2 separate regions of the Homo sapiens genome follow, and region 1 is linked to region 2. Evidence: fine-mapped expression QTL. A gene starts in region 2. The other region holds a variant in brackets. All regions are shown on one strand. Distances are from middle to middle.

Evidence for each region.
Region 1: its variant is fine-mapped to the expression of SLC18A2 in blood mononuclear cells (TOPMed, PIP 0.97).

The regions. Positions count from the first base shown.
Region 1 is chr10:117,262,506-117,275,348 of GRCh38, forward strand. It overlaps SLC18A2 (solute carrier family 18 member A2), which reads left to right. Exons shown (of 16, transcript NM_003054.6): 11 at 4,228-4,306; 12 at 4,479-4,530; 13 at 5,168-5,231; 14 at 7,566-7,685; 15 at 7,825-7,958. Among named protein-coding and RNA genes, the nearest start is that of SLC18A2-AS1, 27 kb to the left of the region's middle. The variant T/G (reference allele first, on the strand shown) is at 4,170.
Region 2 is chr10:117,233,627-117,249,458 of GRCh38, forward strand. SLC18A2 (solute carrier family 18 member A2) reads left to right here and starts at 7,488. Exons shown (of 16, transcript NM_003054.6): 1 at 7,488-7,594; 2 at 8,053-8,188; 3 at 10,345-10,687. The coding sequence starts at 8,068. SLC18A2-AS1 (SLC18A2 antisense RNA 1) reads right to left here and starts at 8,371. Exons shown (of 3, transcript NR_184310.1): 1 at 8,259-8,371; 2 at 8,035-8,157; 3 at 5,139-6,555.

The DNA.
Region 1 (12,843 bases), 27 kb after region 2:
GACACTGGAGAGGCTGTTTCCCAGCTTTTCTTCCCTCTGGCCCTTGAGGTGATGTGGATCTCTCGGTGTTTTCAGGAGGCGCCCGCTGTCCAAGTGGGGTGTGCACTGCTGAGTCCAGCTGCTGTGTTGACTTTGCATGCAACTCTTGAGCTGAGAAGCTCTTATTTGTTTATTTATTTTTAGAGACAGGGTCTCGTCCTGTTGCCCAGGCTGGAGTGCTCTGGTGTAATCATGGCTCACTGTAGCCTCAACCTCCTGGGCTCAAGCTGTCCTCCTGCCTCAGCCTCTCAAAGTATTGGGATTACAGGCGTGAACTGGGTCTCCCGGCCACCTAGCTGAACTCTCATCCTCTTTGAATGTGTCCTGGCCATGTGCAGGACACTTAAGATGTTTTGTGCTCATCCTCTTCAGACAAAGCCTGAGGCTTTCTTTATAAAATCTTTAAAGTCAGCCAGAAGCCATGGGCCATCAGGGGCAGATAGCAGAGTGCAGGCTGCCTGGATCTCATCAGATTGCTGTGTGGGGCCTATCACCGGCGCCAGACGTTCACTCAACCCGCTTGCTGCACATTTCCACCACCGAGGTTCCTCCTTTCATTTGCCCCAGAGATAGACATGTCTGTCTTTAAGAGAATCAGGTTTCTCTACCTGCCTCCTGTGTCAGCACCAGCAGGAGGGGAAATACCCCACCTTCCCTAGTTCTCTGTAGCTTTCAGCCCATGGCTCCCTGACCCTGGGGATGGGGTACTGTGAGTGAAGCAGTGCGGAGGACCCAGTGCTGAGGGCGGGGAGCTGCCCCTGCAGCCCAGACTCTGGTGTTCAGGAATCTTCTCTGAGCTCGCTCCAGTCCAGGGTGAAAGGGAGGCTGTTCTGCCTTTATGCTTCCCTTCACTGTTTCTGGAGAAAGACTATGATATTTGAAGTCAGGGCAAACAATCTTATTAGCTGCATGGGTGACACAGGATTGCTCTTGCTGAAGGCATTGTTTTTGGCCACATTTTTTAGGGGTAGTAAAGATGGCAGCCTACCCATCTTCCACGTCGCTCCCTTGCCAGCCTGCCCCCCAAATTCCTCATCTGCCACTTGAGGGGAAGCCCTGGGCTTGAGTGGGTGGAGAAAGAATGATTTCATGGTGTTTTCTCTATATCTGAGTTCTAGGTCAGATGGCCTCTCCAGACCCCTTGAGACTTAGGGACTTACAGTTTGGGGTGAGGCCTACAAGCCCCCAAAGGGAAACTGAAGCCCTGGACAACAGGCCCCAGACAAGGATGGAGGCACACTCTTGTCTTCTGGTTCTTCTAGCCCCTTTGTATTTAATGAGCTGTGGGGATGCAAAGTGGGATGGAGGGTAGGACACGGGCCTGTACCAGAAGACAAGAGGGACTGCCAGCCTTCTGTGGCTCTGGGGTGCGAGGACTTAGGATCCTCCTAAGCCTGCCATAGGACAGGGCAGACCATTGCCCCTATTCTGGTTCTAGGCCGAGCCCTTGGCCTTCAGGGAGGGGTCATCTTGAGCTTGGAGGAAACCCAAGGTCTCATTTCCACCTTTGCTTCCGGGGCTGGATGGCCAGCTCATCTCCCCGCAGGCTTCGTGATGACCGGAGCCCCTCTCTCACTGGCTGGCCAAGGCCGTGGCTGAAGCCAGATTGTACCAAAATGTAGAAGATCTCCCTTTGGTGAACTTTCTGGTGTGAGCAGAGATATGTGAAGAGTGTTGCCCCGCAGAAGGGAGGGTTCCTGCCATGGCCCAGGGCACTGTTGCAGGCCAGTCCCAGCCAACACTTTTCTCAGAGTCGGGAGAAGCCCTAGAAAGAATTCTTGCTGAGGCTGGGTGCGTGGCTCATGCCTGTAATCCTAGCACTTTGGGAGGCTGAGGCAGGTGGATCACTTGAGCCCAAGAGGCAGAGGTTGCACTAAGCCGAGATCGTGCCATTGCACTCCAGCCTGGGCAACAGAGCCACTGACATTCTGCCTCTATTGAGACTCCACCTCAAAAAACAAACAGGATCTTCCAATACTGGAACTGCAGTCCCTCAGGGGAGTGAATGGCCACAGAGAGTGGCGTCTGCCTTCTAGATGGAGTCTGGGCCCTCTGGGTCACCACAGATCTCTCTTTGCTCCATTTTTCATTTTATTTCTCTGACACTGAGGCTGAATGTCAGTGGTTCTTTATCATGGTATCTGCACTGTTATTTCTGCTTGCAATTTGCTTGTTTTATTCATTTATACCTACCTGGCCTTTGGGGATTCTTATCATGAGACAAATGTTGTCATGATATCTTACTATCCGGACTAACAGTCCCTAGAGCTGGTAGGAAGTCCTACGACACAGCTTTTGAGGCCAGGTTTATATACCATCTGCTCTGTGGAGCTTGGCCAGACGCAGTTCCAGGTCCCCAGAGCATGACACCTGTGTTTTTGTTATGTTCCTTACTTGGCCAGGTCACAGTTTAAACGTCATCTGCTCCTTTCCTTCAAAACACTTGCGTCAGGACAAGAATCACGTTGTCATTGTCTTTGCTGCAGGCCACTGCTGTGCTGGGCACGTGGCTGTCAGTAAATGTTTGCTCAATCAGATTACACTGAACAATTATTTGACCACCACATATTGCTAAGCATGACAGAAATAATTCTCTGGAAAATGAAATGAGATTGCTCTTTATTAGTGTTTCCCAGAACTCCCATGTCTAGAATGATCTGGTTTTGGATTTAGCTCATGGAGCCATTTATTTGGAAGTCCCTGCTGTGTTGGAAGACTCAGCCTGTTTCTGGGTTTGATGGTAGACGTTCGTGCTTTATCCTAAAGAGACAAGATCACACTTGCCCGTGAGTGTGTGGCCAGCTGCTGGGATGAGAAGGACCTCCAGGCCCCATGCATTTTGAGTGTAGCAGGCACTCGGTCATCTGATATCTACCTGCATGTCTCACTTATGCAGTCCTCTGATTGAGAACAAAGTAACTTTTACTATGTGTGGGCAAGGCTTGGAATCAAGTCTGGTATATCTGATTTCAAGGAAAAAATACTAAAATCACTAGGAGTTTGAAAAGCAGTCACTCATAAAGAGATTGTCCTGTGGTTCTGAGGACCACACACAGCTTGGATGGATGAGGACCAGACACAGCTGATGTGGACAATTCCCCTGTAGCCAAGCTGGGTCTGATAATGGTTAGGCCTTTCTGTTCAATGCGGAGGACAGGTTCAAGGCCACTGCTGCCACCACCAGCAGGGAATCACCCTGGGCACATCAGAACCTGGGGGATGCAGGTGTCCTCTATGGGGACAGCAATAAAACTTGGATAGGAGGCCGGACGTGGTGGCTCACGCCTGTAATCCCAGCACTTTGGGAGGCTGAGGCAGGCGGATCACCTGAGGTCAGGAGTTTGAGCCCAGCCTGGCCAACATGTTGAAACTCAGTCTCTACTAAAAATACAAAAATTAACTAGGCGTGGTGGCGCATGCCTGTCGTCTCAGCTACTTGGGAGGCTGAGGCAAGAGAATCACTTGAACCTGGGAGGCAGAGGTTGCAGTGAGCCAAGATCGTGCCGCTGCACTCCAGCCTGGGTGACAGAGCGAGACTCCATCTCAAAAAAAAAAAAAAAAAAAAAATCTGACTTGACAACAAAAAATGACCAGGCAGACATTTATGTTTCTGACATAGAAAAATGTTCATAAAGCTAACTGAAACAAGCAGGATAGAGTATAATCCCTTTTTTTTGTAAATCAAAACACACATAAATATATTTATATATGTAAATAAACTTACAGGAGAAAATAACTGTGGTGATTATCTGAGTAATGGATGGGGTTTGGGGTAATTTTAACATTTTTCTTTTTGTTTATCTCACGGTTCCCTAATTCTTTCAATGACTGCGTCTTACTTCTGTCGGATGAAATCACACATAAGATTGCAGGTGCTGAGCTCCCAGGCAGGAGCTGTTTGTATTGGCCCACGTGTGAAGCCCACCACCAGCCAGAGATGGAGGCAAGATGAAGCAGTTGATAGAGAAAGGACTTTCATTTCTGGAGTGTCTCAGCAGCTTTGTGTGGAGGATAAGCCACGTGGGTCCAGACCGGATCCGGCAGGCGCCGGATATTAGCTGCTGGGGTGTGGGCCCCGGGGCTTCGTTTTATCTGCTCTCATCAACATTGTGGTGTCTACAGTTATTACT[T/G]TTTCTAACATATGACTGATATCAGCACTGATAAGGTCTCCTTTTCATAAATTTACAGGCGTTGCCTTCTTGCCAGCTAGTATCTCTTATCTCATTGGAACCAATATTTTTGGGATACTTGCACACAAAATGGGGAGGTAAGATGATATGAAAACAACACTCATTCTGTTACAATAATGTAGTTCTTTCAAAAAATTCTAAGTTGTTTCTGCCTTTGCTGTTACAAGTAATTGTTTTGATTTTCATTGAAAATTTGGACTAGAAAAAAATCAAATGATCATTTCTTGATGGTGCTTTTTCTTTTGGTAGGTGGCTTTGTGCTCTTCTGGGAATGATAATTGTTGGAGTCAGCATTTTATGTGTGAGTAAAAGATGGCATTTGACAAGTGGGAACAATCTGTGAATAAAACTTGCGCTTTGGGCAAGAATCACCAAGAAACATTTTACGTTTGAGTTTGTTGATGTTTTATTACAGCTTTCATTTTATTCTAATTTTTTATCATCTTAAAAATGTTTGGACAAGACTTTCCAAGGAGTGTATTTTCATTTTATGTCAGAAATTATTTAAAATGTTTTATTTCACAGTTTAACTTTTCCCCTGCATCATCTTAAGCTTGACAGTGTCTTAAACACTTCAGGACAACCAACCTGAAACAATAGCAAGATGTTTTTCTAGAATAAAATCTCTTCTACCAATGGCCAATATCCATCCCTCATGAGGCCTACTTGTTCTTGTCAAAACTTGAGGGTGGACTAGGCTGATCTTTCACATATGCCGGTGACAAGTTTTTCATGGTGGTCATAAAACTCGTTTCAAGCTTTGACTTTTAAAGATTTGGAGGGTCCGGTTCTTCACAAACCCCACCCTTCTTCCTCCTGTTTTCTTCAGAAGGGAACAGGCATACCACGCTCAGAGAAAACACAAGTTCAAGACTTTCCGAGATGATTTAGAGTTGGATCTCTTGTTATTTTAGCATAATGTTTATTTCCTCTTACAGATTCCATTTGCAAAAAACATTTATGGACTCATAGCTCCGAACTTTGGAGTTGGTTTTGCAATTGGTAAGTCACACGAACCTTGTGCCTACATTTAAAACCGCTTTTCCACTAGGAAGGGTTCTTCTTCCTCTGGTAGACTGTAGTTCCTCAACCTAAATTTCCAGAATCTTAGAAGGAGGCTGCAGGCAGCTTAGCTAAATTACAGCCTGTCGATTCTCCGTGTAAAGACACCTGCTTCTATGCACTAGTCATTTATTTCCTGAAAACCAGTATTTTTTAAAAGCTGATATTTACAGAAGGAAACTGATGCTCCACTGCTGGGGCTGGGCAAACAAAGGAATCCCTTGCACAGAGCTCATTTTTGTGGACTCCTCCCTATGAGCAGGTCTTCTCATGAGGCTGGGGGCAAAGGCTTCACATATGTATTTTGAAGAGGTTTTAGTACAGACAAAGCAGACTAATGTGTTGATGACCGCCTGTGCTGCAGGAATTCCCATGGGCAAGGAGATGGGCTTTTGTAATGTTAAGAATGATAATATGTTAGGAAAAATCTGTCACTATTTTGAGTGAATGGTATACTTTTGTCTCTTATTTATAATATACCAATTGATCATGATAAAAATAAGTGCTCAGTCCACCCCTGTAGAAGCAGGAACGCAACCTTTGAGTGGTACAGTGGCACAGCATGGCTTTCACTGAGGACAGATGGTAGAAGGCTGCTGAGGCTGGGGTAGAACTCAGTATGGTACTCTAGGTCCTTCTCAGGTGACCGTTTGCCTGTCCTCTGCCTTGCCTCCCCTTGTCCTCCACTGTCTGGTTGGCCCATCTTTTTAGGGAGGGTGCTAGTCCTCTGGCGGCTCCCCTTGCCATTCTGCAGGTCTGGCAGAGTTGCAGGTTGCTAACTGTACGGCCCCTGGCCTGCATCCTTTTGGTGCTTCCCTGCTTTGCTGTTTTCTGGTTCACTTGTCCCTCACCACTCAGCACACCTGCATGCCTGACCCACCTCCTGCCAGTCACACCTGGGCCACACGCTTAGACTATGGGTGTTTCCAAGGTGGAGAATAATAGGGGGGACCAGAACGCCCCAGAACTCCAAGGAGTCCGAGAGATCATCTGGCCCTGCTCAGAAATTATGTGTGTGTATGTATGTTTATGTGTGTGTGTGTGTGTATGCATGTGTATCCATGTATGTGTGTGTTGTGTGTATGAGTGTGTATGTGTGTGTTGTGTGTATGTGTGTGAACTAAAAGAAGCTAAAACACACATGCACACACATACATACACATACACACTCATACACAAACACACACATTCATACACACAAACACACATACACACACTGACACACGCATACACACACACATACACACATACACCCCCCACATAAACACATACACATACACAAATATACATACACACATATGCATACATACATACACGTAGATACACATACACATACAAACACCCACCCACATACATATGCACACATACACACATACATATACACACATACACACACACCTACACACATACACATACACACACATACACAAATACAAGTACATACACAAACACATATACACAGACACATACACATGCAAACACATGTACACACATATATACACATACATACACAGATACATATATACATATACATAATACACATACACACATGCATACACACATATACATAGACATACACAGATACATATATACATATACATACATACTCATAAATACACACATATACATACAGACATACACCCCAGCAACAACCACGACCAGCATTAGAATCTCGTCTCTTGAATAGTGGGGAGCAGGTAGCATAAAGATGGTGTGTGTTCAGAGTTCCTGGCTCAGACTCCCTGGCTCAGTGAGTGTGGTCAAGCCTCGCCTCTCTGAGTATTGGTTTCCTCATCTATAAAATGGGGATGCTCATGATTGGCTGCTGTGAGCCAGTGTCTGTGAACACACTGGCAGGGACTCAGAGGTTGGTGCCCTCCCCTCCACATGTGTCAGTGGCAGGCACATGAGGAAAGTTTCTTTCATTGAAATGGTGCTTGCTGCTTCCTAATATGTACAAGTGCTGGGGATATGGGTGAACAAAACCAACAGAAGAGTTGGGCATTTAGCAAAGAATTGAAGAATGAATGACAATTGAGATGATGCTGTGAGAGAACATCTGTATACGAGGGGAACCTGACCTCCTCTGGGGGTCAGAAAAGGCTTCCTTCATTCTTTCTACTCAAAGATTAGTATCACCCCAAGACTTGCAGGTGGTGATGACAGAAGGGGAAGAGCTGGCAGGGTGGTGAGTTTAAGACACACTCCCTGATATTCGGCCCATTTTGGGTTTACATCCGTTTTCTATACACTGTGTTCCCTGACTGTCTTCAGGAATGGTGGATTCGTCAATGATGCCTATCATGGGCTACCTCGTAGACCTGCGGCACGTGTCCGTCTATGGGAGTGTGTACGCCATTGCGGATGTGGCATTTTGTATGGGGTATGCTATAGGTAAGGACATTGGCTTTTCATAAGAACCTTTTACCTCAATACGTAATGGATAACGTCTACTAAAATTGTTTAAATCTTTGCATCTTTCAGTCTACAAGACATTTGGAAGAGCTTTATCTAATTCTCTGTTTCCTGAAAGGTCCTTCTGCTGGTGGTGCTATTGCAAAGGCAATTGGATTTCCATGGCTCATGACAATTATTGGGATAATTGATATTCTTTTTGCCCCTCTCTGCTTTTTTCTTCGAAGTCCACCTGCCAAAGAAGAAAAAATGGTAAGAAAAATTTAGGATGCAGTGAGCATTTCTTGATAATTTTAGCATGGCCTTCCTGATAGCTTCCTCATGGTTTCATTCTAAAGCCTTCAAACATAAATGGTGAGAATTCCTTTTTAGTTTGTACCACATAGAGCAGTTACTTCTTTTATTTTTTTATTACTGTGAAAGTTATTTCTTTCAAGCTTATGTTTATAAACTGGGAGAATGAAATTATTTTTGTACATAGATTAGCATCAGTGTTGCTCTTTTGTCGACCAAGTATAAACCTGGAATCATTCAATTTGATTTTCTATGGTTCTTGAAAATCTTGGACACAATCTTTCTGCCTCCTGTACTTATGCCCAAGGTTAGCCATTTGTGGTGCTGTTGCTTTTCTCATAACCCTTACAGCATTCAGTAATAGTTGCTGTCTTGTCTTTACTGTATGTAGGATTTTAGAGATGATTTTACGATTTTTATGGAAAAATCATTGTATATGGACTTTGGGGTATATGTGAACACACAGAACGATTTAATTCATAACTTTATGACCAAAATTATAGCCATAGGCAAGATACAGAGTATAAAGCATCCCTCTTTTGAAAAAGTCCAAATTAATTGATTCAAAATTTGAATTTTGAAATGCATGAGTCATTTTAACCTTTCTAAGGTATTTACCTTACCCAGCAAGGAGACGCTCAGTGTTTCTGATCATCTTTCTTATCTGGTGTTGCCAGTTTTTAAAACAGCAAATGCTGATAGGTACTTGTCCAGGTGAAAGGAGAGTGTCTTGGATTAAGGATGAATGAGGTGAACAAGAGGACATGCATTTTTGTGTTTGAATAGATGTGAGGTTTGTTTGTAATGTTCTCTTGGAAGTACATCAGAAGGTCTTTCTGACAGTGGAACTGAATGCATCTTAATGCTTTGGCATTTCCTGAACTGCCCTTTGATGCTTTTCCCCAAAAGGAGATTTAAAGACAAACCTTAAAATAAGGTTATGTGCAGCCTGTGTTTGTCTTGGGTGTTTTTTACATTCATTAATTCATTCCACATATTTTAAAATATATCAAGCACTGGGCACTGGCCTTGTGCCCTTTATTTTAAATAGGATTTAACTAGATACTTTTGAGTAATGCATGGCCCGTCTGACTCATGGAAAAGGTATGGAAGGTGCTGTGGAAATAACTCAGACAGAAGCCATCCCCTTGTCCTTCCCTCCGCTTGCTTAGATGCTTCCCCAGCTCTGAAAACCACATCACCTTCTCAGACCTCTCTTAGGAGACATCTGCTTTCCAGCTTGGGTGTGTAAATTTCAGATGCATCTTTGCTTGGCTGACCCTAGCATAATACCTTGCCGAAATGGAGTCAGAAAATTCTCAGCACAAATGCAAACTGCCATTCTGTTGCCATGATAACAGTTTAAGGCTGAATGGAGGTTACTCAATGTTTTTGACCAAAAAAAGTATATATGTGTGTATATGTGTTTGTGTGTGTCTGTGTGTGTGTGTATAAAATCACCTACAAATGCTCCTGTAGCCCAGGAAACTGTTTGAAGACTCCTGGGAGATAGTTAGGGCTAGCATGGGCCTGGGAGCCACACTGGCCCCACCATGTAGAGGCTTATGAGTCTTGGTTTCCTCCTCTGTTGCATGGAGAAATGATAACGTCTACCTCATAGGATTGTTGTGAGGATTAAATGAAAGAATCCCAACAGAGTGACTGGCCCTGTGGCTCAAAAAGTGTGTTCCTATTTCCAATATCACCCCACTCTTTCCTGCTTATCTAACTCTCTGGCTTCCCCCGTCAGTCCAGCAATACCTGAATTTTCTCCCTTTTTCCTCCTCTGTGATGTGAGAGTTTCCTTTTGCTATACAGACCCCAGAACTCCTGAATGGGCTCCCCTTGCCAAGCCGGCAAACATCAGTGGCTGTTGTGATGTCCGTTTGTGAACGGCAGCCTGATGGCTTATCTGTGGCCTTGGGGAAATGAATGAGGTCAGAGGATGAGCAGAGAATGTGCTTGCCCAGCCAACTACCACTGTGTTCCGCAGAAGGACTGGCAGAAGGCAGGCCTCAGTACCCCTCCTCTTTCCCCATTTAAACGAATACTTCAGTTCATGTTTTAAAAAAATGCTGAAGGAAGTGGAAGAGACGATCCTGAAAGGCCAAACAGTAAGAATTATAGGTTTCCAGGAAGCCACTTTCACTGCAAGATGTTACAATCCTTAATAAGCACCTAGCAAGATAAATCATTAAAAACTTGAGAAGGTGTGCATCTCGCTGCCCATCAATGATGCCCATAATTGAAGGCATCACATTGGATGCCATTTGACTGGCCTAATGGTGACATTTGAGAGTGGTGGCCAGCAGTTGCTGCCTACTCATTGTGCAAGCAGAGCAGGAAGCCAGCGGTGGCGGCCGACAGCACCTAATGATAAGGGGGCATGCAGGCAGGACAGCAGTGTGTGAGGGAGGAGGAAGAATCAATGACCATGCAGTTGAGAAACCCCAGAGCAGACAAGTGCTGGCGTTCAGGATGAGCAGTTGCCAAATGCTGGGGGATGTGAGGGCCAGAAGGCATACGACCCTTAGCAAATCATTCTTCCATTAGACAGCATCCTGATAACAAGGTGTTTGGACTTAAGCTGTTTTATATTGTAAGATATAATGCTGTTTTCATGGATCACAAGTGACAGAATCATGAACTAGTTTATAAGCATGTGAGTTTGTCTTCCATTTGGTTTACTGGATTTCTGTTTTTTATAATCAGCATTATCAGTATAGGTGGAGGAAAAAAACTGTTACTCAAGTCCCTCTGCACATACAGGAAATATCAACATTACCATTTGAGGAAAAGTGTCTTATAAGACAGTTACACGGTAGCGCTTCACTCTCAAAATTCCCAGTTGAGAAGAGCTGTGTTGCGGATTTTTTTTTCCAGGTTGAAGAATTATTTTTAAAGACAAGTCACGCTTCTTAATTTTACTCTTGAAGTTTCTAATTGTTGCCAAGACAAGAAATTAGGTGGTTTGAGGATTGCAGCTTTCTTTTCCTGGATGGCTCTGATAGTTGTTCCATAAAGCCCTTCCAGCAATAGCTCTGTTTTCTGGATGCCATGCGTGGGGCAAGGATGGGGTGGCCCGAGGCTGCTGAGATAGACCACATTCTGCATATTCTAAGTTGTTTATAGAATTTGTCCCTTTGCAGGTATTTAAATAGTGGGTGCAAAACCATCATTGCTTTTCTAGTTATGTTAAAGAGAATAAAACTTTCCTACTCAGAAGGCCCAGGACCTATCATCAAAATCTCAAAGACTGGCACTCTTATCTTTTAATGCTTTTATGGGTTCACTACCCCAGCTTTGTATTACTTATACTTTTCATTTGGTCCACCATGTTGGTTTGTTTGTACCACTTAGGAGATCCTAACTCATGAAAGGGGCATTTGGAGGGGCTGGGGCTCACCTCTCAGTAAGAGGGCTTTGCTCTGAATTCAAATGCCAATCCTCTCCTATTGATTTTCTCTTTGGTTGAGAGTCAAACACACCTTCCTCACCACAGCAGTGTGTGGAGAGCAGATTTAATTTACCTGCCTGCACTGCGGCCGCCCTACTTGTTCCCCGGGCACCTGACTGACCTGCTTGATGCTGTTCATGCCTTTCTTCATGGCACTTTTGAAACATTACATGCCACCTGGCTTATTTGTGTATAACTTTTTTTTAAAAAGTACAATTATTGCACAATAGATCTTTCAAGAGAGGTTTGGAAGCCAGTGAGCTAGGTTTTAAAGGCTACAGAACATTTAAAGGAGGAAAACTTCACCTGAAACAGGCTGCTAATAAATATGTTTTTGGTGAATTGACAAATGCTGGTCAGTTAAGTATGCATGATGCCAAATAGTCTGACTGAACTGCTTTTCCTGCAGTGCAGTTTTTTGTTGCGTTCCTATCATGTGCCCAGTCCTAGGTTCTGGGGTCCTTAAGATGACATATTCCTACATTCAGGTCTAATGTGGATGAGCCAAGAGATGGAAGGCAATTAGGAATAAGGTAGTGATGACCGTTCTTTATAAGGTGACCTGCCTGCCTGGGAGCCGTGCAAGGATCGAGGCCCCATGCCCTGCATTCCAGTTGGGTGTCCCAACTGGTATCTCACTGTGCCTCCTCAGCAGACCTCTGTGGTGGCCAGGCTGGCTTACTTAGTGTCCTGCTTGGTAAATAACTCATGTTTTACTCATTGCCACCTCCCTTGCTGTCCAAACCTTTTCCATCTTTCAAAGTTTACCTCAACTCCCGCCTCTATAGGATAGCGTTCCCTGGGCACTGAACCAGCAGTGAGCACTCCACCTGGGACCCTGGAGTCCCTGTCCTTGCCTGTGCAGGGAGGTAACTAAGATGCTGGGATAGGACCTTAAAGGCACTGAGATGCAACACCTAGTAGGTGTCCCGTCAGCTGTTGTCAGCCAGATGACAGTGCTGTAGTCTTAGATAATGCCATGTAACTAGGGCAGTGTTTCTCAAAGTTGACACTGTTGTCACATGAGGACAGGGCCCTCAAATTTCATTTTTTAACCTGCTCCATCTCTCCACCCCTACATTTCCTTGCGAATCATTAATCTGGGGGAGATGAGACATTTATTGTTAGGGGGGTTAAACCTTTGTGTTACATGGGGAGAACGGTCCTGGTGTACAAAGTCTAGTGCCGCCATTATTTTAAAAATTGAGCTCTTTATTGAATACAAGTATCAATTCACTTGGCAAGCAGCATAAAAAACAGTTAAGTTAGAAGCTGACAGGTTGAGCTGGCAGCCTAACTTAGAGGGTCAAGGAAGTCCTTATCTTCACATGTTACACAGATCACTGGATAATGTCTTGGGAAATGATAAATGGGTTAAGCACTGAG
Region 2 (15,832 bases):
ATTCCAAGTGAGAGTGGAGGATCAAGGCATGAAGCAAATGAAAACCTGCTCTTCACAGCCAGCTGGCTCCTCTGCAGCCTTCAGTGACAGCAAATGTCCTTAGACAGGTTAGTGATTCTATTAAAATAGCCAAACCTGGAGACCCACATTTACAGATAATGCCACATGAAGCCAGTTAATTCAGTGATTGAATTATTAAGTTAGAGCATCTATGACCTAATGTCATTGGTAGTCAGCAAGGCATCCTTCAAGTAAATTGACATTTGCCTTCCCATTCCCTCTTAAAATCAGAACAGTCGATTTGGTTAAATTTTACACAGAAAATGTTCTTTTGCAGCTGCCTACGCAGAAAACCTCAGAAAAGCATGAGAATGAAATGCATTCTTTTTCTAATCATAGTCTCATTATTTACCTGTATGCTAAACAACTGATTGAGTTGGTGTCAAGGAAAAAACAACCCTCTACCTGAATGAGACAGATCTTGGCGGAGACTTTCCATATATTCTTGAAAAGAATGTGAAGTCTGCTACTGTTCAGTGTAAATAAATACCAATTAAGCCAAAGTGGCTGCTGCTATTATTTTGATCTTCTGTGTCTGGTGATTTTTTTGTTCAGGTGTTCTATCAATTGTTGAGAAAGGGTGTTCAATTTCCCCACTTTGATTATGGAAACATCTATTTCTCCCTTTCATTCTGTCCATTTTTTTTCATAGATTTGGGGCCTTATTATTGGGTGCATATGCATTACGACTTTTATATCTGCCTGTTGATTGACTCCTTTTCCCATAATGAAAGCTCCTTTTTAGATCTCTTTTTCAAGTTTTGTTTTTGAAATCTATTTTATCTGAAATTAATACACTCACTTCAGCCTTCTTACGCTTACAGTTTACATGCATTGTTTTTTTTCCATCCATTTACTTCCAACTGATCTGTGTCTTTATATTTAAAGAGTGACTCTTATAGACAACATAGAGTTGATACTCTTTTTAAAATCCATTCTGACAACTGCTTTCTTTTACTTGTAGTGTTCATTGATGTTTAATGTAATTCTTGATTTAGCTGGGTTTCCTCTATCATTTTATTTTTGTTTTCTGCCTGACTCCTCTGGTTTTTGTTCATCTGTTCCTCCTTCCCCATCTTTTAAAATGACTTGAATACTTTTTCTTAGAATGCATTTAGTTTTAATTTTTCTGTCAGCAGTTTAGCTATTCTTTGCATTATTTTTGACAGTGGTTGTGCTAGGATTCCATCATACATCCTTAACTTTTCACAGTCCATTTACAGTTAATCATAGGCCCTTCACATAAAGTATGGACATCTGGCTTCATTATAGCCCCGGAACCACCCCCATCCCTTAATAACAGTTGTTGTAAGTAATGCATCTACATATGTCATGAGCCCCTCGAGATGATGTTACAATTTTAATTTTAAACAGTTAAAAGTTTATAAAGACAGTTTGAGGGAAAAGGCAAAAACAAAACACACAAAACAAAAAGAATCCATCCAAGAGTCTTTTGCCTTGAGCCAGACATTGCCCTTTTCCAATGTTTTGCCATTGTTTTCTGGGGAAGGAGGTTTCCATCTGCTATCACTGCCCTTCAGTCTGGCTTGAGACAGCTCATGGCCCTGCCTGCTCCCCAGGAGGCGTCTCCCTGCGGCGTCTCCCTGCATGGCCTGTGTGTTCGGTGCAGCCAACGCTACATTGAAAGTGTTTGCCTTTTCTAAGTGTCTATGGTGACAGCCTCTTTATCACCAACACATCCTTTTGGCAGGGGTGGCAGTGGTGGGGTACCTTATGTACAGAGCAGTGAGTTGATCCTCTGCCCAGTTCTGAGCAGACTGTGGTGCCCATTTCTTGGTTTCTTTTCACTTATTTCCACTTTTCCACTTCATCCTAGATCCCCATTCCTGGCCCCCTCCTGGAGAAGGGGATCCAATTCCGATGTACTTGATTCATACCCTTGGATGGGGACGAAGCCTCCAAAAATGTAGTGGTGCCCATCTGCTTCTTATGTACCCACCTGGAATTATGCTATAGAACTTGCCCTCCTCCTCCTCCCAAGACCCAAGGCCTCCTAAAATCTGCCTGTGGAGATGTGTGCAACGCAGTGCACAGCTTCTATGGCTCCATGGTACTCTACAGTCGCGTCCTCCACATTTCACTTACATCGTCCCTAGTGAGGGAAACCCAGGTTGCATCAGTTCCCCACTGCTGCACACGACATGGCAATGACCATCCTTATCTATGCCCCTTAGGTTCTGAGTAGGGATTTCTCAGAGACAAACAGGACACACACACACACAGAGAAAGAGAGAGAGAGAGAGAGAGAGAGACCGCAGCCTACCTTCGGGTCCCTGTTCTGGGCCCTCTCACTTCCTACTCTCCAGCCACGGTGTGGGGAGCGGGCAGACCCTCCCTCAAGCCATGCAGTAATCCTCCCACTAGCACCTTGTCTTTGCTCTTCTAGGAGGAGGTTGGCAAGGAGCTCTTGAGGGTCTTGCCCAAAAGGCACTTGCTCTACCCAGTCTGAAGATGACGCAAACAAATCCTGTCTAGGTGTAGCCCTCCTGGGAAAGTTCAGCTGAGGCTGCCAGCCCTGGAAATTCAGGGGACTGGGATACAGGCCATGGGAGCCACCCGGGGCTATGTACAAATGGGATGGAATTTCCCACAAAGTGCAGTGGTAACTGTCTCAGCGACTTCCCTGGTGTGTCCTGAAACGTACAATGTATCCTACATTTACCCAGGCTCTTCCTGGGAGCAACTCTTTGTGCAGGGACTCTTCTGTGGGTAGCCTCTGGGGGGCTTTTAAATCTGGCTTCTTGGTTTGAACAAAAGATGGCAGAGAGAGAGGGAGAGAGAGAGAGAACTCTGGATCAGAGGGTGGGCACTTACTTAATTCCACCAAAAAGTTCCTGATTGCTCTCCAGAAAGGCTGCACCAGTCCCCATGCACCCCAAGGAAAGTACTCTCATTTAGCTATATTTTCACCAACAAATGGTCTCACCCAACTTCCTATTGTTGCCAGTGCTCCAGGTGTAGGGCTGTGTCTCAACCTCATTTTAATAGGCATTTCTCTGATTACTAGCGTATGAGTGTCTCTTCATGAGCTTGGTAGCTATTTGGGCTCCCCCTTCTGTGACCTATCTGTTCCAATCCTGTGCCAGCTCGCTGGCTCCTGCCTGGCTACTCTACTCTCCCTTCCTTCCCTGTCTGTGATAACTAGTACGCCAGGTTGGGCTAGGCTAGGAACCACTGAGTCTCTTGGGATGGTTTTGTTCGTTTCTGCTCTGACCCATTATTTGAATGTCACAGCTTAATGCCCAGGAGGTGAGGGTACTGTCCTTGTTTCCAAGTTCTCTGGTGGGGGAGCACCTGAGGATTTTTCCCCCAGGAAACACCTACACCTTCCCTGTATCCAGCAGTTTCCATTTTCCAGTAACAGAGAACACCTAATGTCAGGCACTAGGCAAGGCCCATCCCACTTTCTCTCTATAACTATGCTGGAGGGAGGGACTGTTATCCTGCTGGAGAGACAGATAAGAAACAGGTATGTAAAGGTCAAGTAGAATGACCAAGGTCATGTAACTTGTAAGAGACCCCACTAGGATGCTGTCTACAGCTTAAACTGTTAGTGCATCTCCAGTAATGTCTATTTCAAATAACTGCTATGTCCCAGGTGGCTACTTCCTAAATAGAATTTAGAAATTATCATTCTCAATTATTGAAATGTAATGAAAAAGTAAACTCGGGTACCACCTTTGTACCTCCTCAGTCCCCAGTGTCTAAAAAAGGTGCAAGTGAGTGGAGGGAGAGGAGGGAGAGTTACTTTCCTCTAGAGAGGAAGTAACTCTAGAGGAAGTAATGTTTCTTTGAGGGTTACTCAAAGGAGGAAGTGAAGTAAAAAGGAGAAGTAACACCTTCATGAGGGTTTATAAGGGAGGGGCCTGTCTGATGCTGGACAGCATGCTTTCCTCCATGAGGAAATAACTAGAAAAGAAGAGGAAGCGGAAAGAAAATGTGCAAAGGCCCTGGGGCAGAGAAATGCTGAGAGGAACCACTGTGGCCAGAGGGGGAAGGCGAGGGCTAAGATGTTTGAGAAGTGGCCGTGGAGGCTCTTCAGGCTGGAATGGCAGGACACTGAGTGTATATGAAGATGTCCCGAGCCGTTTGAGACCCTCAATTTTCATGTCTTCCATTCTAAAGCTTATCTGGCTGATATGGACCTGGGTGGGGACATGCACATGCTCCTGCATGGCCTCCCCTCTCCACAGTCTCCCATCTTCCCCTGGGCAAAGAAAGGCTCCCTTCCTATCTAACCTGAGTCTGACCCCCTTCCTGTATACAGTGTCCTGAGGCACAAAAACATCCTCGGCACCAAACAGAGACACTTTTGGTGTCTCTTTCAGCAAGACTCCAAAAATCCCCTCTCTATCCATCCCTTAAGTAATGCACTTTTAAGACAATTTTCCTTTTTATGTTTAATAATTATTTATCAGAATACATATTTGTGTATGATGTCTTGATCACTTAAATACCATTAATCATTGTTATAATCACATAATCCTAAAGAGAATTTTAGAGCCTTATTAATTAATCATTAATTAATTTTTGAGGCAGGGTCTTGCTCTGTTGCCCAGGCTAGAGTGCAGTGGTGTGATCATGGCTCACTGCAGCCTTGACTTCCTGGGCTCAAGTGATCCTCCCACCCCAGCCTTCCAAGTAACTGGGACCCCACGTGTGTACCACGATGCTCAACTAAATTTTAAACTTTTTTGTAGAGGGTCTCACTATCTTGCCCAGGCTGGTCTCAAACTCCTGGCCTCAAGAGATCCTCCCACCTCAGCCTACCAAAATGCTGGGATTACAGGCATGAGTCACTGTGCCTAAACTTTTTTTTATACTTTCAACTTTTGTTTTGGATTCAGGGGGTACATGTGCAGGGTTGTTACACTGGTATATTGAGTGATGTTGAGGTGTGGGGTATGACTGATCCTGTCCCCCTGGTAGTGAGCATAGTACCCAAGAGTTAGTTTTTCAACCTTTTCCCCCCTCCCTCCCTTTCCCCTTTAGTAGTCCCCACCAGGGTCTGTTGTTGCCATCTTTATGTCCACGTGTAGAAAATTTTAAAAAGCTAATGCATATTCACATATTTATTGTGGTTCACATAATAGATAGGTGATGAATACAGAATTTAAACAATAAAAGCATTAGGGTAGGATACAATTCTGTTGGAAAACGGAATGGAAACATACTTAAAAGGGGTAAAGAACACAATGTAAATATTTTGACTGTTAAAGGGATACTTGTTTATATTCTTAAGTATAACATGGCAGTTTTGTATTCTTATACAAATTCCTTTGGGTATATTTAAAAGAGAGAGATAATAATTTTATACATAAAGGTCAATAAATACAATATACCCTATTTAAATATATGATTAAAAAACTCATTTTAGATGCCAACTTGAAAATGTGTAAGGCAAACATATTGTTAAACATTTTTTAGGGGGTTTCAACAAAAAGTCTGTTATAGGCCATAGTGCTCTAGGGGTGGTGACAGTGATCCGGAGGCGGGAACGCCGGGCTGGCATTGTCCCTGGAGCCATCTACATCCAGCTGGCTGGGCTGGAGTTTGGTGTGGCTTCCAGTGTTCACTGCTATGATGCTGCTATCAGGTCAGAATGTCAGCAGGGATTTGTCTAGGCTTTACTGTCTCCCCAGCATTAACCATAGTGCCTGGCACGTAGTAAGAGCTCAACACATATTCAGCGCATGAATGAGGGGCCGGCACTTACGGAGCTCTCACTTTGTGCCAGGCACTGTGCTAAGAGCTGCCTATGCATTCCCCTGGAATTCTCACAACCACGCTGCAGTAGGTCCAGTGAGTATCCCCATTCCAGAGATGGCGAAACTAAGCCACAAAGAGGATACATAACCAGCCCAAGGCCACCAGTCAAGGAAGTAGCAGACTGGGACCTGGGCATCCTGGCAGGCACCCTTTACCATAATGCCTCTCTGTCCCCATGTGGTCCCTGGGGTAGAGTCTGCATCCTTGGGTTCTGAAACTCCAGAGCAAGCACTCTGGGGCACTCCCTGAGTGATACCCTCCTGCCATCTTAAACGGCTCTCTGCCATCTGCTTCCTCCTCCTAAGTGGTTTTCCTTCTGTCCTCCCTGTTTAATGTTTAAGTTGTGCACATCCTGTGACATCCTGGAGACCCATGTTCCTGACCTACTTACCTATTCAACCATCTCTTCTCACACATGGGGTAGCAATGAGAAGCACAGGGGGTCTCTGCAAGGGAGTAGGGAGGTGGAGAGAGCGGGGGCAGCCACACATCACACTGCTGTTCTCAGTGGCCTCCTGCTGTCAACAAGCTAACATTAATAAAACAAGCCCACTCTTCTGCTAAGAGACTGTGACAGGGTAACATTTATTCTAGGTAGCTTTTCAAGAAAACAGCTCTTGCTCCCACGGTCCCCTCGGAGGGCCTGCAGAGCTCCAGCGATGTCAGAGGGCATCTGTTTGTTTCTCCTTTGCTTATAAAAGGGACCTGGAAATCAAAGGCAGGCTCTTAGCCCTTAGCAGTGAGGATGACAGCTCTGCACCAGCCACACGCAGGCCCCTGGCTCTAGGAACCACCTCTCACCCAGACGCCCAGGCACAGCATGGTGGGGAGAGAGTACAGGACACAGGGCCTAGGCCTGCTGCCCCGCCCACAGCCCGCCCCCTAGCCCTTTCTCTGAGGCCAGGTGTACTCACCTAGCCTCCAGGGTCCCCTGCTCAGGTGGCCCCAGAGGCCCAAACCCACTGCTCCCACTTTCTGAGACCTGGGACCCTCACCTCCCCAACTCCCACCATAGGGCGACACTGAAAAGTGTCCCCTTCCCCCCCCCGTTTCCAAGTCACCAGCTTGAGGATGCCCAAGGCTCAAAGGCTCCTCCGAGTGGCACCCCGCATCGGGCTGCAGAGGTCGGAGAGGGGAGGGGATGGTGGGTGCAAAGGGTGGCTTCTTCAGGAAAGGGAAGCCTGTCCCTGGCTCCCAGCACCTGTCACCCCTGGCGATCTCACCCCGCGGCCATCATTCCCGTCCTCACGGCCCATTTCAGGGACACTGAGGCTCAAAGAGCCACGTGATTTATTCAAAGCAGCTCGAGCCACCACTTGGAGCCACAAGAAAGCCCTGGTCCGTGCCTCCTCGCCTTGGTCCCTGGCCCTTCACTCTTCGTCCAGGCTCTCTGACCTCTTTCCCTCTGCGCCCCTGCCTCTTCCCCAGGCCTGGGTCCCCAAGGCACTCGGCCACGCGCTGGGTCCGGGGAAGAGGCGCGGCCGCGGCCGAGGCGGGGACAGGGAGGCGGCAGCCCCTCCTGCGCAGCGACGGCGCGGGCGGGCGGAGGCCGGGGCGCCCCAGCCCCCCGCCCCCGCTCCCTCCGGCCGTGACGTCAGAGCCGGACGGGGTAAACTGAGCGGCGGCGGCGGGGCGCTGGGGCGGAGACTGCGACCCGGAGCCGCCCGGACTGACGGAGCCCACTGCGGTGCGGGCGTTGGCGCGGGCACGGAGGACCCGGGCAGGCATCGCAAGCGACCCCGAGGTAACACGGCCCCGGTTCCCTGCTCGCAGGGCGCGGTGCCGGAGGGGAGCGGGCCCGGGGGAGGCAGGGAGGCAGGGAGGCCCCCAGAGCTACGCGGGCGGGGCTGCGGGGACCCCGGGGCAGCCGGGGCGCAGGGCGCAGGGCGCAAGGTGCACGGGGCCGAGCGTGCAGTTTGGGAGGTGGCACAGTTGGGGGCGGCGGGGATCAGGGCAGCGTCCTGGGGGTTCTAGGTTGGGTCTCCAGATTGGGTCCCCGACGGCGCTCGCGGGCGCTCTTTCCAGGGAGCGCGGGCTCTCGTGGGGACGCGCTCGAGGCAGGTGAGCCGAGGCTGGGGCGCCCGGGGGTGTCCCCGGATGCCGGTGCGCGCGGCTCCCTGACCCGCCCTTCCGCGGCCTGGGGGACGGGAGAATGGGGGGTCCACGGCCGCCTTGGGTCCTCACCGCGCACCGCGCCCGCAGCGGAGCCCCGGAGCCATGGCCCTGAGCGAGCTGGCGCTGGTCCGCTGGCTGCAGGAGAGCCGCCGCTCGCGGAAGCTCATCCTGTTCATCGTGTTCCTGGCGCTGCTGCTGGACAACATGCTGCTCACTGTCGTGGGTACGTGCGGACAGGGCACCCCTGCCCCGGCACCCCAGCCCCAGCGCCCCTTCCCCGGCACTCCACTTACCCCTGCGCGGTCCCGGAGCTCCGCCAAGGCCCGGGAAAGTTGGAGAACTCGCTTTGCAAAAAAGACATCCCCTCCAGGCTGCCGCGCCGGGGCTAGGAGGAGCCGCGTTGTGTGGCTTCGCTTTCCTGATGCTCGGGTCAAAAACTGTGACATCCGATAAGACCCAGAACTTATGTTTCCCCCTGATAATTTCCCGCATCCTCTTGCCTGCTTTCACTGCGATGAAAAAGATTTCTGTTCCAAAAGAGAAATTCCTAAAGTTCAAAATTACGTGTTAGAATAATTATTGGGCTACTCGAAAAGGCAGGTTAGTAATTTGGTGTAGTACCTAAAAGAGCAAGTTTCGATCCCTTACTCCAAAAACAAGACATTTAGATATACTGTATTAGTGAATGACTTGAGATGGAAATATTTCAGGAACCATTGCAAGAACAATTTGAACAATCTTGGTTCTATTATTTTTCCTATAGTGGAATTTTGAAAAATTAAATAATCGAAATCCAGGTCCCTTAATTAGGCCCATTAACAGAGAAGTATTTGGCATGCATTTCCTTAAAAAAAAAAATCCCAGTTTTTAATGAATGAAAAAAAAATCACGACTCATTTAGACTGTAAGTGGTGGGAGCTGTTTCCTTTCTCTCCATTTGCAGGTTTTCTCACAGCAGTTTTCAGAGCATCTGATAGGTTTCATCTCGAGGAGTTATCAGAGCCGTGGAGCTCATCCCTGTTCAGTACCAACGGCATTAGTTCTGCTTCGGCTCGAATGCTCCATTGGACACATGTGCTCACAGCTTCGATTATATGTTTCACAATTTAATTTGTATTTTTTGTTGTTGCTTTTTATTTTGGTTTTTGTTTGTTTTTTTGAAATGGAGTCTCACTCTGTTGCCCAGGCTGGAGGGCAGTGGCACAGTCTTGGCTCACTGCAACCTCCACCTCCCGGGTTCAAGTGATTCTCCTGCATTAGCCTCCCGAGTAGCTGGGTTACCGGCATGCCCCACCAAAGCTGGCTAATTTTTGTATTTTTATTAGAGACAGGATTTTGCCATGTTGGCCAGGCTGGTCTTGAACTCCTGACCTCAGGTGATCTACCCGCCTCGACCTCCCAAAATGCTGGGATTACAGGCCTGAGCCACCGTGCCTGGCCTGTTTCAGTTTTGCTTTTTCCTTGTGAAAGCCTTAGGAATTCTTAAATCTTACAAGTTGTAGGAAAAATTACAGATTCCCACTCATAATAGAAGGATGAAGTGGGCCTGTTGCAGAATTTCCAAGTTATTACTTCCTGCAGGTTAATTTTTTTCTAAGACACATAATGAAGTGTAGTTTTCTGTTTCCTTGATTCATTCATTTGAAAGTCTTTTGAGCCTCTCTTTCTTAGAAGCACTGGTTGACTCCAGGTCAGCACTCTCTTAACGTCAGGCCACATTTTGCTTTTCTGAAATATTCCTTGAAGGAACAATGTGGAAGAAACCCACAAATGACAGAATCTCTGGGACCAGTCAGTTCAGCACAGCAGCTGCCTTTTGAGAGGAGACAGTTCTCAGGGCCGTTGGGGGCATGGTTCTTTCTAGTGAGCTAAGTAAAGTGAACTTGCTCCAATGTCGTTATAGACATATGGCACAGGGCTCCTGTTTTGGGGTAGACCTGTCACCCTCTGGACCTCTTCTGGCATTTGACACAACCATAGTTTTGTTGTTGTTATTGTTGTTTTGTTTGTTTGAGACAGAGTCTCACTCTGTCACCCAGGCTGGAGTGCAGTGGTGCAATCTTTGCTCACTGCAACTTCCACCTCCCAGGTTCAAGCGATCCTCCTTTCTCAGCCTCCAAAGGAGCTGGGATTACAGGTGGGTGCCACCACGCCCAGCTAATTTTTGTATTTTTAGTAGAGAGAGGGTTTCTCCATGTTGGCCAGCCTGGTCTCGAACTCCTGACCTCAGGTGATCCACCTGCCTCAGCTTCCCAAAGTCCTGGAATTACAGGTGTGAGCCACTGCTCCCTGCCGACACAACCATAGTTTTTTGCTGGCTTTTTTCCTGGAGAGGGTTTCAGTGTGATCACCACCTTGCCATTCTGCTCTTATCCCCAGTCCCCATCATCCCAAGTTATCTGTACAGCATTAAGCATGAGAAGAATGCTACAGAAATCCAGACGGCCAGGCCAGTGCACACTGCCTCCATCTCAGACAGCTTCCAGAGCATCTTCTCCTATTATGATAACTCGACTATGGTCACCGGGAATGCTACCAGAGACCTGACACTTCATCAGACCGCCACACAGCACATGGTGACCAACGCGTCCGCTGTTCCTTCCGACTGTCCCAGTGAAGACAAAGACCTCCTGAATGAAAACGTGCAAGTTGGTCTGTTGTTTGCCTCGAAAGCCACCGTCCAGCTCATCACCAACCCTTTCATAGGACTACTGACCAACAGGTAGGGCAGACTACTTTAGTCAAAGAGTTTGATATTTGTATCAGTCCTAGCTTATGTCCTTCCTGGAATTCTGCTTCTTACTCATTGGTGAGAGTCTGGAAAATCCATGGTGGGTGAGCTGGGGAAAACCCAGTCCCCTTCCCCTATGTCTCTGTTCCCAGATAACCACAATTTCCTATTCTATTCTCCCTTCTGTTGCTCAACAAGTAAGAAAATATTAAAGAAGACAGAATAAAGAGGACCTCTTCCACCAAGTGGGAGGACTTTGGCCTGTCTAAATGCCAGGTTTCGTAAGTGCATTTGTCAGAATCGCCCTTGGCAGCAGGAACTCTACAGCCACCATGGCTGTCATCCTATTTTATGAGCCATGTGGCCTCCTCTTATCTCCTACCTCAGGCCATGCACTTCTCTGTAGAGAGCCAAGGTGTCTTCTTTTGGAACTGGCATGTTAAAGCCTCTCACAGATACCAGGTAGGGAGTGTGGGAAAAGGTTGGACGCACTGGTGCGCAGATGGAGCTCCGAGTTGATGCCGAGGTCATGGGCTGTGTTCTTCCCTTCTGCTGGCTACGTAGCCACGTCCACGTGCATGAAAGGAAGAGAACTGAGGCTGTTGTCTGGATAATCCAAGCTGCCCAAACTAGCTTCAGATGAATCAGGCTGTTCTAGATTTTTTTGAACCCACATTGTTTGGAATAACTGTTTACTTCTCCATTGTTGGTGAAGTGTTTGTTCTTCTGTAGCTGAGGTGGACCAGTTCTGCCTGGTCCGTGGGGGCTCAAAGCTCAGGACAAGGGCCTTGCAGCTGAGAGGAGGAGGCAGGCCCCCAAGGTGTCAGTGCAAGGAGTGGGAGCTGGTACAGTTAAGTGTTGGTGGTGGGCTGCCAAGTGCGCAGTGTAGCTACCTAGGTGAAAGTTACAAAACACCAGAAATGGTGGGGAGGGGTGTGCCCAGAGTCCTACCTGCAGACCAGGCCCAGAAGCAGGAACAAAGACTAGACTAGAGATGGAAGAGATGGTGGCGAGGAGAGGGTGGAACTAAGGAGGCAGGGGAAACCAGGGCTGGGCTAGGCTGTAAGAGGCCCCAAGTGCTGGGCTGAGAAAGGAGTGGGATTCTGTGTGGGGCAGTTGGGAGCCATTAGAAATTCCAAAGCCAAAAAGAAATGAGTGAATCAAGCACTATTTTAAGCAGGGTAGGTGGGCAGGGAGCAGGGAGAACTTCACATTTCCTCTGCCTTTGGCGTGGGGAGTGGGGCGCAGGACTGGCTGCATAATTTGTGGGTCTCGGTGCAAAATGAAAATGTGTGCCCCACATTCAAACATTATGAAACACTTCAAGGTGGCAGCAGAGCATTAAATCAACCAAGCTCTGAGAGCAGAGCCCTGTGCGACTCTAGGGTTAGGGGCACCGAGAGGTGAGGAAGCCTGGGGTGGTGGCTGGGGCTCAAGGAGGGGATGGCAGATCTGGCCTTCCGCCAGCACAAGCTGCCTTGGACACATGGAGCTTGAGTCGGACAGGAGCACATTCTCAACATCTGCAGTTGAATTTTCTGGATGGAAGGGTGCCATTGAATTGATTTCAACAATCTCAAGCCATGTCCAGCCCTCTAGTCTGTGCAGAGCAATATTCTAAGGCTGCTACATAAAACATGCTAAGCAAATTAACCCAGCGAAGGGCTGACTGTGAGCCCATTAAGAAGGTGACATTCAGTGACTCCTCTGTTCTCAGGAGAAAAACCAAACCGACCTCAGTAGTTGCAGGATTGTTTTCTTTCCTTTTTTCAAGACTAAGAATGCTTCTTAAAATGCATCTGGTATAATTACAGAAAATAGCTCAGGGTTTTGTATTCTGAGAAAGCAAACAGCTCAAATATTGTATGTGAAAATTGAGGACATTATCGTAATAATACCTTGCCAATCACTTGGGTGGAACGTTACTAGCCGTACAGTGTAATACTTAGAAATTCGGCTGAAATGATGTGAGTACTCCAATCTTCCAAACGCAAATGGCAAATGAAAAGCTTTTTTAAAAATCCCATTCTTATTTTTAATGCTTTGCTTATGCCATGGGGAAGAGGCTTGTTTAAAACCAGTGAGCTCTTTCCCCTGTTAAATACTCCAACGGCTTTGAGGCTGTAGCCACACCAGGCTCATGTTTGGGACTTCAAAAACATTATCTTCCATTTTGTGACTTGTGAAATTTAGTCTATTCTCATGGTGAGTAATCCACTTTAGAAATTATCTAGAGCAAAATTGTAATCCCCAACTGTTTTGTCCAGCTACCGAGCAAATTTGAAAATGATTTTCTAGTGCTGCCTGGTAATATGGAAGGACAAACAAATTTTTTTTTCTTTTTTTTTGAGATAGAGTCTTGCTCTGTCACCCAGGCTGGAGTGCAGCAGTGTGATCTTGGCTCACTGCAACCTCCACCTCCTGGGTTCAAGCAATTCACATGTCTCAGTCTCCTCAGTAGCTGGGATTACAGGCGTGCACCACTATGCCTGGCTATTTTTTGTATTTTTTGGTAGAGACGAGGTTTCACCATGTTGGCCAAGCTGGTGTCGAACTCCTGACCTCAGGTGATCTGCCCACCTCGGCCTCCCAAAGTGCTGGGATTACAGGCGTGAGCCACCGCCCTCAGCGAGCAAATAAATTTTCATATTGTGATCCTGATTTGTAATTTGTCTCATAATTTCCAAGCCCAGTAGATATGAATTTGGGGACTGGGCAGCTCTTCTGGACACTCCAAGATTCTGCTTCCCACCGCAGTTCAGATGGATTCAGAGAAGGGACAAATGTGCATTCCATTTGCCTTTAATTGTCTTCAAGGAGTTAACTTGTGAGCCATTGCAAACAGTCTTTTGATGTAAACTGTGCCAATCACATCCTCCATGAGCAAGATGTATGACTCAAGTCTTCAGTGTTGTAAACAAATGTGTTTAAAGGCTTTTTAAAATTGGTTAATATGTTTCTGATTAAAGAGTAGTTAAAAATATGGAGCATCAGAGCTTGCAGAGACTTTTCCTGAAAGCTTTTGGGCCAGTCCTAGCATTTTATAGGCAAAGGAGTTTGCAGTTCAGGAGGAGAAAGCATTTACCACAACAGTGGCAGGACTGTAGCCACATGTTCCGACTGTCCCATTTCAAGCTTTGTTCTTCCCCGCTTCCTGTTCTTCCCACCTGCTTACAATTATACAGCTTGTACCTTTAGCTACTAGAAATAAAGAATGCAGCTCAAAATCTGTCTTTCTTGCACTGACTTGGGCTCTTCCTGGTTGTACCAGGCAGAACTGCTGGAGACCCAGTGAGTTGCTGATTTTGCTACTTTTAATCAATGAGCAGAGAGTTTAGAAAAGATCAGCCTGATTCCTGTGGACATGGAACCTCCCTGGTCCCTGAAATATTCAGTCTTTTTCCAGTCCCTGATGTGAACTGGTCCAGCCTCGTGCATCCCTAAAGATGTGTGGGGAAAGCTTCCTGTAGTCAGGCTGGGCAGAGCTATTCTTTTCCAAAGCTGCTTGTTTTAACTGAAGTGGGACCCACTCTGAATCGAGACATTCTACACCACACCACACCATAACTGGAATCCTCTATTCACAGTCGTGATGGTGCCATGTGTGTGGCTTTTGTGGGTAGGAGTCACAAAATGTAGGCCGCCTGTTTATTTATTTATTTATTTAGACAGGGTCTTGCTCTATTGCCCAGGCTGGAGTGCAGTGGGGCTATCTCGGCTCACTGCAACCTCTACCTCCCAGGTTCAAGCAATTCTCCTGCCTCAGCCTCCTGAGTAGCTGAGACTACATGCCACCATGCCTGGCTAATTTTTTTTGTATTTTAGTAGAGATGGGGTTTCAGCATTTGGCCAGGCTGATCTCGAACTCCTGACCTCAAGTGATCCTCCTGCCTCAGCCTCTCAAAGTGCTGGGATTACAGGCGTGAGCCACCATGCCCGGCCCTGTCTGTTTTTTTTAAATATTCGATAAGTTCTCACACCAAACCCTGAAAATATAGAGTAACAATTCTTGGGTTCATTTAACTGCTAATAGGATGCACATTCTTCCTGTTTCATTTGTTATTCAGATCCTGTATTTCTGCTGAAAATATATGACCAGTTAGGTGGCAAAAACCTTTGATTTGGGTGTGTGTAGTGATGACCTGGCCAATAGCACACTTTCCAAGAAAGCCTGAGGTTGCTGGATTGACCTGATTTCCATGTTGGAACCTCTTGCCTCCTATTTTATAATTTTGGCTGAACTATTCATTTCATGATTGCAGTTGTGTGCAGGTGGTACCAGAAATTATACTAGTGATACTTGGTCATCATTTGGTCTAAGAAGCAAATTTTAGATATATATGTCCATAAGAGGAAAGTTCCAGGCACATGAACAATGGGACAACACGTTTACATTTCTCTCTTCCCTCAGTCAGGTAACGATATGGCATTGTGGTCTTGCTTAGCATAAGGTTGAAATAATAGTTGCATCTTCAGAACCAAAAGATATTCCACACCAAACGACTGGCTTGGGAAAGAGTTAACTTCATTGCTGGGGACCGTTTCCCTTGCTTCCTTCTTAGCTTGTCATTGTCTCAGTGATCTGCTTTTTATCAAGCCAGCGTCAATGGCTTAATTTATTTCCATAGTTACTTAGTATATTTGAAAGCAGTTCTTTTTGCTTGCAAATCTTAGCTAACATCTGAACGACAAGGAGGAAGCCACAGGGCATGAAATCTCTACGAAATCTACCATGGTTTTATTTTATTTTTTTGCTAGCTTCAGCCAGTGGGTCTGAAGTGGGCTGTGTAGGAACAAGCAGTGACCTTTTCAGCTTCTCTATGGACAGGGAAACCGGCTGTTCTGAGAAGAGATCTCCCATCCTGCATGTGGTTAGGATGGTAGGGAGGGCTTGATGAGTCTTTGCTTCTGAAATCAGAGGAAACTGGCTGTGGAATTAGAACATTCCTAGGAGAAGCAAAAGCTCTGTTAAGCTATGTGTCAGAGAACAGGGCTCACGCCCAGGAAAGTGAGAAGTCCGTGCCCCCTGGAATTCTCTGGTAGCTGAAAAAGACAAGCAGAACCTAAGAATTTTGACAAGCGGAATCGAAGAATTTTATTTACTAAATGATTGACAAACCTCCTACTATATCCAGG